Linked DNA regions of Homo sapiens: region 2 is linked to region 1. A link means that fine-mapping ties the variant in region 1 to the expression of a gene that starts in the linked region. Tissue or cell type: coronary artery. Region 1 holds a variant in brackets; the other region holds the start of a gene. All regions are shown on one strand. Distances are from middle to middle.

Region 1 (8,102 bases):
ATAAAGTTACTTGTACAAATTTATAACAAAAGTGGCCCTGTTTGGGCTTTCTGGGTTTCTTACTTGTGCTGAGTGTATTTTTATTCTCTAACAATTCAAGTCAGACCAGTGCTTAATAAATACTGGCTCGACTGTGGATTATTCCACAATTTCAGACCTGCATTTCTTTGAAATCTAGTCACATTTTAGTGATCTTTGTGATCACAACAGTGATGGGAGTTTTTTTTTTTTTTTTTTTTTTTTTTGAAACGGAGTTTCGCTCTTGTTGCCCAGGCTGCAGTGGCAATGGTGCGATCTTGGCTCACTGCAACCTTCGCCTCCTGGGTTCAAGCGATTCTCCTGTCTCGGCCTCCCGAGTAGCTGGGATTACAGGCATGTGCCACCATGCCGGGCTGATTTTTGTATTTTTAGTAGAGACGGGGTTTCACCATGTTGGTCAGGCTGGTCTCCAACTCCTGACTTTAGGTGATCCGCCCGCCTCTGCCTCTCAAAGTGCTGGGATTACAGGCGTGAGCCACCGCGCCCGGCCAGTTACGGGAATTTTTAATGGAGTTTTACCCTTTTTAGCTCTTTTCCACATCACTACAGGTCATCACATATACTTTTTACCTTACTTTTTAGCGTCTCAAAAAATAGGGAGAGCTCTCCCTGAACAGTGCAGAGCCCGTATCCCTGATTTCCTAGGCTATTTGATTTCTACATCCAGGAACGTAGGGTCATATCCACTGTTCTTGCTTTTTCTTCCTAAGAAAGGAGAGAATTCCTCGCACATATATATCGTTGGCTTGGCCTTCCAAAGCAAAGCAAAACTAAACTCTGTTGATTTTGCCTGGGAATCCTCGGGGCCCCTAGTATTGGAAACTTCTTTGAACTGTGAGGAGCTGCTAATTTGCAGGTGACATGTGAAAGAAATGTAACCGAGGCCAGCAGTAACTAAAAGTCGGCCACCACCCAACGTGTGACGCCGATTTGTGGCCACTGTGCTTATAATCGTGTACACACAGGTTTGTGAGCAGCAGAGAACAAAAGCAAGTAAACAAAAACAAGCTAAAGATGGCGTCTGACGGCCTTGAAAAAGCCTCACAGTCTTGTCCCTCCCTGAGGAGGCCCCTCCCCTACCTGACTTTTTGAGTGACTGTTGTTTGCAGCCAATAGTGTCCGTGACCCTGCTCCCCAGCCATCGTCTAACCGCCAATCACCGGGAGCCAGAAGGCAAACGGGGCGGTGTCTCCCCGCGTGCGCGCGGTAGCCGGGTACACGGGCAGGCGCCGCGGATAGTTCTGTCTCCCGCGCGCCCGCCTCCGCCTCTGCCTAGCTGAGTCAGCCCGTGCGGTAGCGCCAGGCACACGCGGTAGAACATCTGTAGGGCTGCAAAGCTGCACCTCCGCGTCAGTTCTCACGGCGAGCGCCGCCTTCAGCCCAAGTTCTCAAAGCTCTCGGGGCTACGTAGTCTACCCTCCCCGGTGACCCGGCGAGATCCCTAGCCGCTCCTCCGGCCGCTCTGCTCTCCGCATCCCTCGCGGGAATGACCCCCTTTACCCGGGACTCCCAGAGCGCACTGTATGGTAGGGCACAGTGGCGAGTCACCCTGTCCCCTGAGGCCTCTTGAGCAGTCGCCGATCTCTGCTTCCCGCGTCGCTGCGATCGCCTTTCCCGTAGCTGAATCACACTGACCCATCGGAAACGGTTCTGCCCTCCCTGGGGTCCACCTTGTCATCCTTGACTAATATTTAATCAACTAACATTTACCAAGTTCTCGCTGGCACGAGTTCTAGGAGCTACTTTTTCATTTTTCAGTTTCTCCATAAATGCAGTGGGTCCTTTAGGCAAACCTGAAATCGGAAATATTAATCTTACCAATGTAATCTTAGCAAATGTAAATAAAAAGGACTGTGCTATACTGGGCTAAAAATTCTCATCCTGCTATAGAAATATACGTGGAATTTTCAGATTACGTGGAATCCTTTAAAGACCGCATTCGGCCTTCTGGGTCTACAGCTCTCTTTTTTACCCCTAAAAATAAGGTCTTGGATTTTTTGCAGACCATTAGTCGAGTCACTCTTTTAAAATGTGGGAAAATAGTATTTTGTGGTATTTACTTAGCTGCTCTTGTGTGATAAGGAGCTCATTTCTGATAAAAATAGGTTTTGAGAGAACCTTTTGACAGGTGAGCCATTTTGCACCTTGAAGTGGAGGAGTAGGACTGACCAACACAGCAGGAGCTTTAAGTGGCCGTTTTCCTTATTTATTTCTTAAAATGAAGATTATGATATGAATTGCCATGCTTTCAGTAATCACATTTAAGGAAGTCTATTGCTAGCATGACCCTGAATGAGTCAAGCACCCATTATAAAAACATATATCATCTGAGTGATACCATATCATACACATCTATTAAATAGTGAGAAAACTTTTATTTTTCATAGTTTGGAGGTGAACTCAGTCATGCAGAAAATTCAAACTCAGAATGGGGAGAAAGCAAGCAAGGGAACTGCCAAGAGTATGATATATTTAGTCCTAACAAAAATGTGACTTGGGAGGAAAGGGATAGTTAAAATTATGGACAGTCTTACCCTGAACTGTCTGTCTAAAGGAGATGAATTGTCTTTCTTTTTTATCTAAATATTTATGAAAAATACCAAAAGTACTGGAAAGTACATTTTTAAGGCTCGTTTCACATTTATTTAAATTAGACCAATACTGAAATGAACCCCAAATGCTTATATTTTTTGCAAACCTAAGTGTGACATCTACTGTCATGTTGTGTTGGCAACGCATCCCAAGATTGAAGATCTTTTTCTCTTTTTTAGACCTAGTCAGTTGTTTTCAGGACTTTCTACTTAAACATGTTGCCATCATTTGAAATTTAAAATGTTAAATAAATACACTTCTTCTCTAATATACTGGTGTCTCCTCTTTTTATTTATTTATTTTTTAGAGACTGGGTCTTGCTATGCTGCCGAGGTTGGTCTCAAACTCCTGGGCTCAAGCGATCCTCCTCCTCCCAAAGTGCTGGGATTACAGGCATGAGCCACCATGCCCAGCCATGGTATTTCCTCTCAACTGCCTCATTTCTGTCATTCTGGTGGTGGTGGTGGTACCATCCTGTTACTCTTAGGCTTATAACCTTGCAGTTGTCTTTAACCAATTATCTCTATACCCCATCTCTATAACTCTGTCAATTCTCCTTATCTTACTATATAAGCGCCTTTGCTCTGACCTCTGACATGTACCCTGTTAAGTCCTGTAATTTTTTTTTTTTCCTCTAGAATGTCTTACTACCCTATCAGTTAATCCTATACATTGCTCAAGGCTCAACTGGAAGCTTTTCTTCTGTAAGAACTCTTTCTCAGTATGATTTCATTTTGTTAATGTTTCCATTATTTTGAACTAACGCCTCAGAAATTTTTCAGTCTATACCATATTATTAGGACTTGTGTGTATTTCACTTTGTTATTTATTTGTTTGTTTATTTATTTTTGAGACGGAGTTTCACTCTTGTTGCCCAGGCTGGAGTGCAGTGGTGCGATCTTGGCTCATTGCAACCTCCACCTCCCGGGTTCAAGTGATTCTCCTGCCTCAGCCTCCCGAGTAGCTGGGATTACAGGCATGTGCCACCACACCCAGCTAATTTTGTATTTTTAGTAGAGACAGGGTTTCTCCATGTTGGTCAGGCTGGTCTCGAACTCCTGACCTCAGGTGATCTACCCGCCTCAGCCTCCCAAAGTGCTGAGATTATAGGTTTGAGCCACTGCACCTGGCCTCAATTTGTTTTTTAGATAGTCCATGTTTAGAACATCCCATATTCTTTAGACATTCCCATCTGAAATACACTTTAAGTGCCTTATAGGTAGAGACTTTGTCTTCCTTTCATTTGAGTAGTGTGCAATGCATTTTGGTGAGTCATCCTTTAACATGGACTTACATATAAAAAACTTTTGGGCCTGGGCACAGTGGCTCACACCTGTAATCTCAGCACTTTGGGAGGCCAAGGTGGGCGGATCACTTGAGGTCAGCATTCATTAGTCAGGTGTGGTGGTGCATACCTGTAATCCCAGCTCTTCGGGAGGCTGAGGCAGAAGAATCGCTTGAACCTGGGAGGCAGAAGTTGCAGTGAGCCGAAATCGTGCCACTGCACTCCAGCCTGGGCGACAGAGTGAGACTCTGTATCAAATATATATATATATATTTTGGCCGGGAACGATGGCTCACGCCTGTAATCTCAGCACTTTGGGAGGCTGAGGAGGGCGGATCACAAGGTCAGGAGTTCAAGAGCAGCCTGGCCAATATGGTGAAACCCTATCTCTACTACAAATACAAAAATTACCTGGGAGTGGTGGCACATGCCTGTAGTCCCAGC[G/A]ACTCTGGAGGCTAAGGCAGGAGAATTGCTTGAACCTGGGAGGTGGAGGTTGCAGTGAGCCAAGATCGTGCCTCCACACTCTAGCCTGGGCGACAGAGCGAGACTCTGTCTCAAAAAAAAAAAAAAAAAAAAAAAAAAAAATATATATATATATATATATATATATATATATATATATATATGAATATATTAGCCTAAAAATATCTCACCCCACTCACCAGCTCACCTTCTTTTTTTCTGAGCCGGAGTCTCGCCCTGTCTCCCAGGCTGGTGTGCAATGGTGTGATCTTGGCTCACTGCAACCTCTGCCTCCTGGGTTCAAGCCATCCTCCTGTCTCAGCCTCCTGAGTAGCTGGGATTACAGGCACGCGCCAGCATGCGCGGCTACTTTTTTTTGTTTTGTTTTTTGTATCTTTAGTAGAGACAGGGTTTCACCATGTTGGCCAGGCTGGTCTCGAACTGACCTCAGGTGACCCGCCCACCTCAGCCTCCCAAAGTGCTGGGATTATAGGCGTAAGCCACGTGCCTGGCCCAGCTCACCTTCTTTAATGGGGGTATATGCAGCTAATGAAATTAATGTTTTGTTTTGAGTCATTTATCCAGCACTTAAGTAGTTACCTGGTTAGTAAATATAATGTGAAATACTCGTTTATTACCTGCTGATCCCAATATCTTTCCATATCTTAGAGTTTAGGTGAGAGACTATAGCAAGAGGCTGGGAAATGAAGTCAGCAATAGTGTCCATGGAAACCAAAAAAGAATTCTTTGAATGCCCATTGTGCTAGACCACACTGTACCTAGTTTTTATAGGCAAATTAATTCAGGAAAACACCTATTTGTTGCCCTGAATGTGATGTTTTAAAATGGACATAGTATGGTAACATACAAAGTAGAAAAACAGAAGAGCAATTGAGGAACAAATTGAACTCACAATAGGAAAATACATTTAGCATTAAAAACTAGCATAAAATATTATCCTTAGTCTGAGACCAGGTCATGATAGCAAGTAAATTACAAATACTAAATTACCTTTCTAATTTGCGTCATAGAAGGTTTTGTATCTATAAATGCATCCTCATAGACTTGAGGAATGTGTTGTTTGTTAGAAATTCAATATTAAATTTGGGGGCAAATTTCCCCAAATTCTATTTCAAGCCATTGCATTTTATTCAAAATTAGGGAATCAGGAATCAAGGTGGTGGCTCGCACCTGTGATCCCAGCTACTCAGGAGGCTGAGGCAGGAGGATGGCTTGAGGCCAGGAGTTGAAGACCAACCTGGGCAACATAGCAAGACCCCGCCTCTTAAAAAAAAAAAGATTAAGGAATCAGGGTGGGTGTCCAGGTTGGGAACACAAAATGTTACAGGAATAACCATAATATCATCCAGCCGTTACTAGTGGAGCACTGACCATGTGCCAGCACTCTATAGGTGCCTTACATATATTATGTATAATCTTCACAAAAACCACTCAAAGTAGATAGTGATGAAGAAACTTGGTCTCAGAAAAGTGAAATAATTTACTAATGTTCACACAGCTCATAAATGGTGCAGCCAGAGGAGAACCTCATTTTTTTTTTTTTTTTTTTGAGATGGAGTCTCGTTCCATCACCCAGTCTGGAGTGCAGTGGCGTGATCTCGGCTCACTGCAACCTCTGACTCCTGGGTTCAAGCAATTCTTCTCCCTCAGCCTCCTGAGTAGCTGGGATTACAGACAAGTATCACCATGCCTGGCAATTTTTTTGTATTTTTAGTAGAGATAGGGTTTCACCATGTTGGCCAGGCTGGTCTAGAACTCCTAACGTCAAGTTATCCACCCACCTCAGCCTCCGAAAGTATTGGGATTACAGGTGTGAGCTACCACGCCCGGCCACCCTTTTTTTTTTTTTTTTGAGACGGAATCTCGCTCTGTCGCCCAGGCTGGAGTGCAGTGGTGCGATCTCGGCTCACTGCAAGCTCCGCCTCCCGGGTTCACGCCATTCTCCTGCCTCAGCCTCCAGAGTAGCTGGGACTACAGTCGCCCGCCACCACGCCCGGCTAATTTGTTTGTATTTTTAGTAGAGACGGGGTTTCACTGTGTTAGCCAGGATGGTCTCCATCTCCTGACCTCGTGATTCGCCGGCCTCGGCCTCCCAAAGTGCTGGGATTACAGGCGTGAGCCACCGCCCAGCCCTTTTTTTTTTTTTTTTTTTTTTTTTTTTAACCTGCAGTACAGTGCTGTTTTGGAAAGATGACCAAGGAAGGACGACCAAGGAAAGACTATTTAAAGAAGAAGGAGCTGGGCGCAGTGGCTCACACCTGTAATCCCAACACTTTGGGAAGCTGAGGCGGGTGGATCACCTGAGGTCAGGAGTTCAAGACCAGCCTGGCCAACAGCGCGAAACCCTGTCTCTACTAAAAATATAAAAATTAGCCATATGTGGTGGCACGTGTCTGTGATCCCAGCTACTTGGGAGGCTGAGGCAGGAGAATCACTTGAACCTGGGAGGCAGAGCTTGCAGTGAGCCGAGATCTTGCCATTGCACTCTGGCCTGGGCAACAGAGCGAGACTCCGTCTCAAAAAAATGATAAATAAAAATAAAAGAGAGGGGAAGAGCTTGAGGCAGGCTCAACACTGGTAGGGGTAAAAGCCTCTTGCAAGAAAGAGTAAGTGCGTGAGGCAAGAGAGTTTGGTACCAGAAAGGAGTTAGACAACTCAGCCAGTGTCCCAGCCGGATGCATCTTAATTACTGATTTTACAAATACTGAACCCAGCTGGCAAGCATTTGAATACTATTATTTATTATCACCAAAACATTCTTTTGCCCACAGCATCTATGTTTAAGAGCAAACTCCCTGCATGATGTAGGTTAAATAAAGAATTAAAAAGAAAAAGCTCTGCAGGAGCAGTGTAGGCCCTTATTTAGGAAGGAAAAGAATACATAAGTGATTCATCTATAAATTGACATAGAAGTGCTTAGTGCTTTCCTTTAACCTTTAGTTTTAATTTGGTTTAACCTTTAGTTTCAGGTTTAGCTGTGCCTCCCAGTGACTATAATGACAAGGAAGCTGTAAATGTATTTGAGTTAAGCTTTTGCGAGAAGTAAGTATCTGGCACAGAAAAAGCCATTTCTTCGATATAAAGGGTGGAAAGAGCAAATTAAAGACTATTCTTTAATAACCACATGTAATTAAAATGCATTGTCAGATTTATGTTTTAGTACCTCAGAGGCATTGATATTGCCTCTTTCTGAAATGAGATTGCCTATTCAAAAAGAAAAAAGAAAACCCTCAATATATAGAAAATTCTCTTAACCTCCTACTCTTTTTTTTTTTTTTTTTTTTTTGAGGTGGAGTCTCGCCCTGTTGCCAGGCTGGAGTGCAGTGGCACCATCTCGGCTCACTGCAACCTTTGCCTCCCGGGTTCAAGTGATTCTCCTGCCTCAACCTCCCGAGTAGCTGGGGTTACAGATGCCCGCCACTACGCCCGGTTAATTTTTGTATTTTTAGTAGAGACAGGGTTTCACCATGTTAGTCAGGCTGGTCTCAAACTCCTGACCTCAGGTGATCGGCCCACCTCAGCCTTCCACAGTGCTGGGATTACAAGCGTGAGCCACCATGCCCGGCTCCTCCTCTCCTTTTAATTGTGATGTTTTAATTTACAGGGTAAGAGAGAAATGCATCTCTCAGAGAAATTGTAAACATACTTAAGGTTTTGACATGGCACATCAGAAGGATTTTTTTTCTATCATCAAGTATTATTT
Region 2 (8,102 bases), 86 kb after region 1:
CACAGCCATGGAGACCTCTGTTTTTTCATTATTTTGTCCACACAGGTATCCGTCCAGAGACTCACTCTCCTGGGATGTTCTCATGGTTTCCCATCCTCTTCCCTATTAAGGTAGGAACTGCTTTTAAGACTCTCTAGTTAAGCAGTAACCTTTGCCTTTGGTGTTGTGCTTCTTTCCTTCTCCCAGGAAGATAGTTGACTATGACTCATGTTCTCCTGATTTCATATGCTCTTGGATCCCAGTGGTAGGTGTTGGGAGTATTTGGAGTGGCCTTCTGCCTGGCTTTCCCGCATCTACTCTGGCTACTCTTCTGTCTGTTCTCTACTTTGAGCAAGAGTCATCTTTTAAAAACTCAAATTTGATCTTATCTCTCTTGCTGTCTTTTTTTTTTTTTTTTTTTTAAAGAGACGGAGTCTCACTCTGTCGCCCAGGCTGGAGTGCAGTGGCACAATTTCGGCTCACTGCAAGCTCCGCCTCCCGGGTTCATGCCATTCTCCTGCCTCAGCCTCCCTGAGGCTGAGATTACAGGTGCCAGCCACCACACCCGGCTAATTCTTGTATTTTTAGTAGAGACGGGGTTTTACCGTGTTAGCCAGGATGGTCTCGATCTCCTGACCTCATGATCCGCCCACCTCAGCCTCCCAAAGTGCTGGGATTACAGGCGTGAGCCACCGCGCCTGGCCTGATCTTATCTCTCTTTTTTGCTTAAAACTCTTCAATGCCTTCCCATTGTCTTTAGGATAAAAGTCAAAATCTGGGACATTGCTTGTAAGACTTGATGTGATCGAGTGTTTGCTTGCCTTTGCAGCTACTGTCCCCTTGCTTACACTGCTTCAGCCTTATGGACCTTCTTTTTGTTCTAATTGTCTATCTTCTTTCCTACCTCAGGCTTTCATGCCTTTCTCTTGCCTGTAGAGTTCTTTGCTTGTCTCTTCACACAGTTAACCTATCTTCTAGGTCTTCTTTAAACATTTTTATTGTGAGATAAACTTTCTCTGATCTCCTAGACTAGGTTAGTGTTCCCTTTCATAGGTGTTTTTCTGACTCTGTACATGTTCACAGCTCTCACCACACCTTTGATTATTTGTGTTCTGATAGGCTTCAAATAACTTTCATGAGGGTTGGGACAGTCTTGTCATGTTTATCATTTTATCTCCACACCTACCTTAATACATTGCCATGTATAATTCATAGCTTCACCCTGAACCTTCCTGTCTTTCTTCTTACAGCAGCCCATAACGGTACGTGAAGGCCAAACCATCTGTGTGCGTTTCTGGCGATGCAGCAATTCCAAGAAGGTGTGGTATGAGTGGGCTGTGACAGCACCAGTCTGTTCTGCTATTCATAACCCCACAGGCCGCTCATATACCATTGGCCTCTAGCCCTGCGTGCCAAGTGTCCAGAGCCTTGGAAGCAGCTTCAGGTTCTGCTCCTGTAGTACAGAAGGTGCAGTACATCTATGGGCTGTGATTCCCCTTGCCCATCAGAGAGGAGCATTTCAATCTGCTTTCCTGCCTTACATCAAGGTGGGCAAGGGATTATAATTAATTGCAGGGCTCAAGCCACCAATCTATGAAGACCTCAGGCCAGGGGGTGAGGAATTAGTGCTGGATTTGAAGCTACGCACTCAGCCTCAAGAACTCCCTGGAATATCCCTGAGAACATGGGGTTTGAACGGATTTTCAGCCTTTTTCTGTTCTTGTTTTGATGGTTTTGTGTAAGAGGAAATACAAATAAAGTTATAGCCCTTTACTGCACGACCATGCTGCCCCCTGCCACTATTTTCCCACACCTCACTTAGACCCAGGCATGTTCAGATCTGTCCTCTTAGCCTATCCAAGACCCAAAGGGGCCTAGTTGTATTCCCTACTTAGGAAGCTGAGCAATGACTATTGTAGTCCTGGATATAGGCCTTTCTGACCAGCTACAGTGAGCTCTTGTCCATTAGAACCTACAGTTAGGCTTTTCTCTGGGGAGGAGGCATAGAGTTTGCCACCTTGGAAAAAGATGGAATAGTGAGTGAAGCCAGTTTCTCTTCTGTATTCTTGAGCTACTGCACGGGCAACTGGTTACCTCTCCTTTGTTACCTCTTGGGAAGACTGGAATCCATCCAGGAATCTCCAGCAAGAAGCTACCTGTTTTTTTTGAATAAAACCACAGGGTTACAGTTTGAAGTCCTAAGAGATCATCTAGTCCAATTTTCCATTTTACAGAGGGGGAGTTTGAAATGGGTACAATGATGTGATATTAGTATCCAAGTCAGAATTGGAAGTCAGGTCCTCCGACTCTGGCTCTCCCCATGTTATAACCAGCTACATTTTTGGTAGCTACAGTAGACCACAGAAGTGTCTAGGGGCTCCTGGAGGCCCCTGGAAAGTGAGGGTGGACATCAGTTCCTTCTTTCCGGTTAGAGGACTCAGTACTGCTACATCCAAGGAGTCACCTGAGAAACTTTCAAATTTACCCTTGCAGTGGGAAATGTGGGGGTACTGATTTGAACGGAAGTTATGACCTGTGGGAGCAGGCCATGACGATAGGGCAGAGTGTGGGCCAAGACAAGTCTGTGGCAAGATCTGCTTTTCCCTGGTCCCAAGCACCGAGGTCAGGAGAGGTGGTCGGGAAGGTTGTTTAGGTAGCCGGCTCAGAACGGGGATTTCGAGTTCAGCATCCCCGGACGTTAAACAAACGCCGCTGTTCTCTACAAAGCTTAACCTTAACGACCGACGTGACTCCTTCAGCAAATCCGAGTAGGGACGGCCAAGGATGTAAATTGTGCCTCCTCGTTGGCTCCGCCCATCGCACTGGTCTAGTCTACGCGAGCACCAGGAGTGGGGTTGGTGGCTTCTTCACTCCCGTTTTCAGTCCCGTTTTCCCCGCCCTCCGCAAGTCATTTAACCAATGAGAGAGTGATGGGCGGCTACCAAAGGACGCTTCCATTTTCTGGAGTCTCTGAGGTTAGCCAATCAATGGGAACTCGGTGGTTGCTAAGACGCATTTGAGTTTGCTCCACCCATACTTAGGACTTTAGCCAATGAGAACCTGTACTTTGGACGGTTGCCGCGAAACCAGTGAGGTTATTTCCAAAGCCGGGGAGTCTTGGCGCATGCGCAGATTGGGGAAGGTTCTGGAAGACGGCAGAGCTGCCGCCATTTTGCGGGAAGAGGAGGCTCTGTACCTGCAGTGCTGCTTTTCTTGCCTAGACTCTAGGAACTATCCGAGCTCCACTCCCCACAACATACTCAAAGGAACGGAGAGAACCGGGACCCCCCTGCGGGGACCCGGAACTGGTGAGAAACCCCAAAACCCGGTCCCCACCAGACGTCACCAATGCGTGACGTTGCTGCACGGCGCCTCCCCCCTGACGTCACGGGCAGAAAATGGCGTCACGAAGAGATTCAGGCGAACTTTTAACATTAAAAAAACCTTTGTTTGTTTTGACCTGGAAGTGTTAGCTACTTAAATGTAGCCCACTGCCACGATTTTAGAGTTGGGCACCCTCGTGGCTGTATCTTGCACCGATAAAGATGCGGTTTCTAGAATCCTGTGATTTTTCTTTCCGGGTCTCTGCAGCCGTGACACTTAGGGTCGCCCACACTGGAGAGGGAGCATCGACCCTCCGCGGCCTGAGAGGACACGCATCATCAGTTTCAGCCACTCGCACCACCATTCAGAGAGAGAGAAGGGAATTGAGCTTTCTTCCTCAATCTCTAGTCTGTCGAAGATTCATGTTCACTATGTTGACCTTTATGGGCTTTTCCCATTTAACTTTTTCAAGCACTCATTCCAGTAGGCGTATTATGATGCCACATATGAAGATTGAGCCCTGGGACACTGGCTCCCGCAGAGATTGTGCCAGTTGGTTGCCTATAGGACCTCTTTTTTTTTATTTTTTTAAGGCGGAGTGTCGCTTTGTCACCCAGGCTGGAGTGGAGTGGCGCGATCTCGGCTCACTGCATCCTGTCTCCCGGGTTCTAGCGATTCCCCTGCCTCAGCCTCCCGAGTAGCTGGGATTACAGGCGCCTGCCACAACGCCCGGCTAATTTTTGTATTTTTAATAGAGATGGGGTTTTGCCATGTTAGCCAGGCTGACCTCGAACTCCTGACCTCAGGTGATCCACCCGCCTCGGCCTCCCAAAGTGCTGGGATTACAGGCGTGAGCCACCGCGCCCGGCCTATAGGACCATTTTTTAAAGCTACACAACATGGGGAGGGTGGTCCTTCAAGTAGCTTTTATCGTTCTCATTGTTCCTCTTTTGTTAAGCTGCCTTCAGTTTGTAGGTGTTTGTGCCCAGCTAAGTGATCAGACCCTGGGGATGGCGCTACCATCACCCCTGGGGCTCCAGCTTTTCGTGAATTCTTCCCGAATTGGTCTGACAGTGGTTCTCTCTGCTCCTTTAGCAGTGGGGTCTATCTGTTGGCTTGTGCTATGACGAGGTCTAGGAACTGACGTGATTGTGGGTCTCTAATACTGTTTTTGGAGCAGGATGGAAGAAAACATACTCTATGTGGATGAGATTGAGTGGACCTTGACCCATAAGTTGGGACATGAAGAGAGCGTTTGAAAACTACCAACCTGGGCCGGGTGCAGTGGCTCACGCCTGTAATCCCAGCACTTTGGGTGGCCGAGGCGGGCGGATCACGAGGTCAGGAGATCGCGACCATCCTGGCTAACACGGCGAAACCCCGTCTCTACTAAAAATACAAAAAAAAAACAAAAAAGAAGAAAAAAGAAAAAACTACCAGCCTGAAAATGCATAGTGTTTGCTACCTTATTGCTTTTAGCACATCTAGAAAGACACTAAACCCAGTGAGATTGCAAGTTTCAAAATATTGTGTTGTATATGGCTTTGCTTAAACGGATATATTTGTTTCTGAGTGAAAACTTTTTACGTAGAGGTTTATTTGTAGAGGCTTGTAAACTTAAGTGTAAGTTTTAGTGTGTGTGTTAAGTTGTTCTTACCCCGCATTAGCACTCAACAATGAGCAGTTCTTGAAATCAAGCATTTCATTTGGAGGGGAAAAAGCAGATTGTAAAAAATAGTTCATAACAGAAAATTTGTGTAGACTTGGCAGCAAAAATGACTGAAACAGCTTGAGTATAAAAAACTTTTCTTTTTAGGCCGGGCTCGGTGGCTCATGTCTGTAATCCCAGCCCTTTGGGAGGACCAGGCAGGCGGATCACCTGAGGTCAGGAGTTCGAGACCAGCCTGACCAATGTGGAGAAACCCCGTCTCTGCTAAAAATACAACATTAGCCAGGTGTGGTGGTGCCTGCCTGTAATCCCAGCTACTTGGGAGACTGAGACAGGAGAATTGCTTGAACCTGGGAGGTGGAGGTCGCAGTGAGCCGAGATTGCGCCATTGCACTCCATCCTGGGCAACAAGAGTGAAACTCTCTCAAAAAAAAACAAAAACAAACTTTTCTTTTTAGAACTATTTTCCCATAGTGTATATTAGTCTAATACCTTTAAGCATACACTGTACATGCCTCAGATATAGGAGACTCACAATGAGGTTTAGCTAATGGGACTGATTATTTTGATAAACATATGAGAAGAACATTCATGTTCAGTGAGTATATATTTAAAAGTAGGTATCTTGGTATACTGTGTCCTTTTTTTTTTCCTTTAAAGTTAATTACAAACCATATGAGAAGTAATCTGATATAATAGATATAATGTTAGATTTGAAGTCAGAAAACCTTTCTGATCAAGAATTAGCTCCTCTGGCCAGATGTAATCCTAGTACTTTGGGAGGCTAAGGTGGGTGGATCTGTTGAGTCCGGGAGTTTGAGACCAGCCTGGGCAACATAGTGAGACCATGTCTCTACCAGAAAAAAAAAAAAAGCCCAAAATATGAAAAGTTAGCCTGGCATCATAGTGCACACCTGTGGTCCCAGCTACTGGGGAAGCTGAGGTTAGAGGATTGCTTGAGCTAGAGAGGCAGAGGTTGCAGTGAGCCGAGATTGCAACATTACACTCCAGCTTGGGCAACAGAGTGAAATCCTGTCTCAAAAAAAAAAAAAAACATTCTTCCCTTTGAGCTGTGTGACCTTCTCTGTTTTGGGGATTGAGACAGAATCTCAATCTGCTGCACAGACTGGATTGCAGCGGCATGATCACAGTTCACTGCAGCCTCAACTTCCTGGGTTCAAGCGATCCTTCCATTTCAGGCTCCTGAGTAGTTGGGACTACAGGCACGCACCACCATGCGTGGCTAATTTTTATATTTTTTGTAAAAATGGGGCCTCACTGTATTGCCCAGGCTGATTTTGACTTGGCCTCAAGCCATTCTCCAGCCTTAGCTTCCCAAAGTGCTGAGATTGCAGGCGTGAGCCACCCCCTCTGCCTGGCCCTTGAGCTATGTATGACTTTGAGCAGTTCAAAAAACGTTAGTTTTAAAAAATTTGGGTATGAATCATATATTACCTGTCTGCAGCATTTGTTACCTTTGATTGCTAAATAAATATAAAGTGTTACTGGAAGAAGTAGAAGGCCGGGCACAGTGGCTCATGCCTGTAATCCCAGCACTGGGAGGCCGAGGCAGGCGGATTACCTGAGGTCAGGAGTTTGAGACCAGCCTGGCCAACATGGTGAAACTTTGTCTCTACTAAAAATACAAAAATTAGTGGGACGTAGTGGCGGGCACCTGTAATCCCAGCTACTCAGGAGGCTGAGGCAGGAGAATCGCTTGAACCTGGGAGGCAGAGGTTGGCGTGAACTGAGATTGTGCCACCGCACTCCAGCCTGGACAACAGAGCTAGACTCCTTCTCAAAAAAAAAAAAAAAAAGCCAGGCATGGGGCTTATGCCTGTAATCCCAGCACTTTGGGAGGGCGAGGCGGTCGGATCACCTGAGGTCGAGAGTTCGAGACCAGCCTGACTAACACGGAAAACCTGGTCTCTACTAAAAATACAAAATTAGCTGGATGTGGTGGCGCATGCCTGTAATCCCAGCTACTCAGGAGGCTGAGGCAGGAGAGTTGCTTGAACCTGGGAGGCAGAGGCAATTGAGTTTACTGGTTTTTATGTATACCAATTTGATTTGGGTTTAATTTCCATTTAAGCCTTAAATTTGGCTCCAAGTAATTTTTCTCTAAGAATCTTCTCTCTCCATAACATGCTTAGCACAGTGTCTAGCAGTTGTAGGTACTGTAAGTCATAGAATCATAGTTGTAATTATTACACTTATTTAATTGTCAAAATAGGATATGGACTCTTAGGGCAACCAAGGCAGCATTGTTGCATAGTGCATTAGCTGCTTTAAAGAGGACAAAGTTCCTCTTTTTTTTTTTTTTTTTTGAGATGGAGTCTTACTCCATCTTACACCCAGGCTGGAGTGCAGTGGTGTGATCTCGGCTCACTGCAACCTCTGCCTCCCAGGTTCAAGCGATTCTCCTGTCTTAGCCTCTTGAGTAGCTGGGACTACAGGCGCCCACCACCATGCCCGGCTAATTTTTGTGTCTTTAATGGGGATGAGGTTTCACCATATCCGTCAGGCTGGTATTGAACTCCTGACCTCAGGTGATCCACCCACCTTGGCCTCCCAAAGTACTGGGATTACAGGGTGAGCCACCACGGCTGGCCAACAAAGTTCTTACAGTTATGAAAAAGTCTGATTATGATAGCCTCCTTGCATAGAAATTCCTCAGGTTTTTTTTTTTAACGGCATGATTGAGGTACATTTAATGGGCACACGATAAAACTGTATACATTAAAGTGTACACTTTCATGCGTTTTGATATGTTAAACACCCGTGAAACCATCACTCCCAAAGATTTGTTTGTTTTTGTATTTTTGAGACAGTCTCGCTGTGTCATCCAGGCTGGAGTGCAATGGCGTGATCTTGGCTCACTGCAACCTCTGCCCTCTGGGTTCAAGCAATTCTAGTGCTTCAGCCTCCTGAGTAGCTGGGATTACAGGTGCTTGCCACCACACCCGGCTATTTTTTTTTTTTTTTTTTTTGAGACAGAGTCTTGCTCTGTCACCAGGCTGGAGTGCAGTGGCACGATCTTGGCTCACTGCAACCTCTGTCTCCCGGGTTCAAACGATTCCCCTGCCTCAGCCTCCTGAGTAGCTGGGACAACAGGCGTGCGCCACCATGC

The links. PIP is the estimated chance that this variant, and not a neighbour inherited with it, causes the effect.
Region 2: RBM23 starts here. The variant in region 1 is fine-mapped to the expression of RBM23 in coronary artery (GTEx, PIP 0.98).

The regions. Positions count from the first base shown.
Region 1 is chr14:23,000,298-23,008,399 of GRCh38, reverse strand. The region is part of intron 1 of C14orf93 (chromosome 14 open reading frame 93); the gene reads left to right. LOC124903286 (a long non-coding RNA gene) reads right to left here and starts at 5,974. Exons shown (of 2, transcript XR_007064075.1): 1 at 5,017-5,974; 2 at 1-1,832. RefSeq lists enhancers at 1-456, 1,390-1,759 and a silencer at 1,180-1,229. The variant G/A (reference allele first, on the strand shown) is at 4,361.
Region 2 is chr14:22,914,184-22,922,285 of GRCh38, reverse strand. It overlaps RBM23 (RNA binding motif protein 23), which reads left to right and starts at 3,137. Exons shown (of 14, transcript NM_001077351.2): 1 at 3,137-3,287. PRMT5 (protein arginine methyltransferase 5) reads left to right here. Exons shown (of 17, transcript NM_006109.5): 16 at 46-110; 17 at 1,230-1,757. The coding sequence ends at 1,382. It overlaps PRMT5-AS1 (PRMT5 antisense RNA 1), which reads right to left and starts at 2,830. Exons shown (of 2, transcript NR_120600.1): 1 at 1,166-2,830. RefSeq lists a silencer at 2,763-3,062 and enhancers at 3,323-3,392, 3,483-3,592, 3,663-3,832, 4,321-5,085.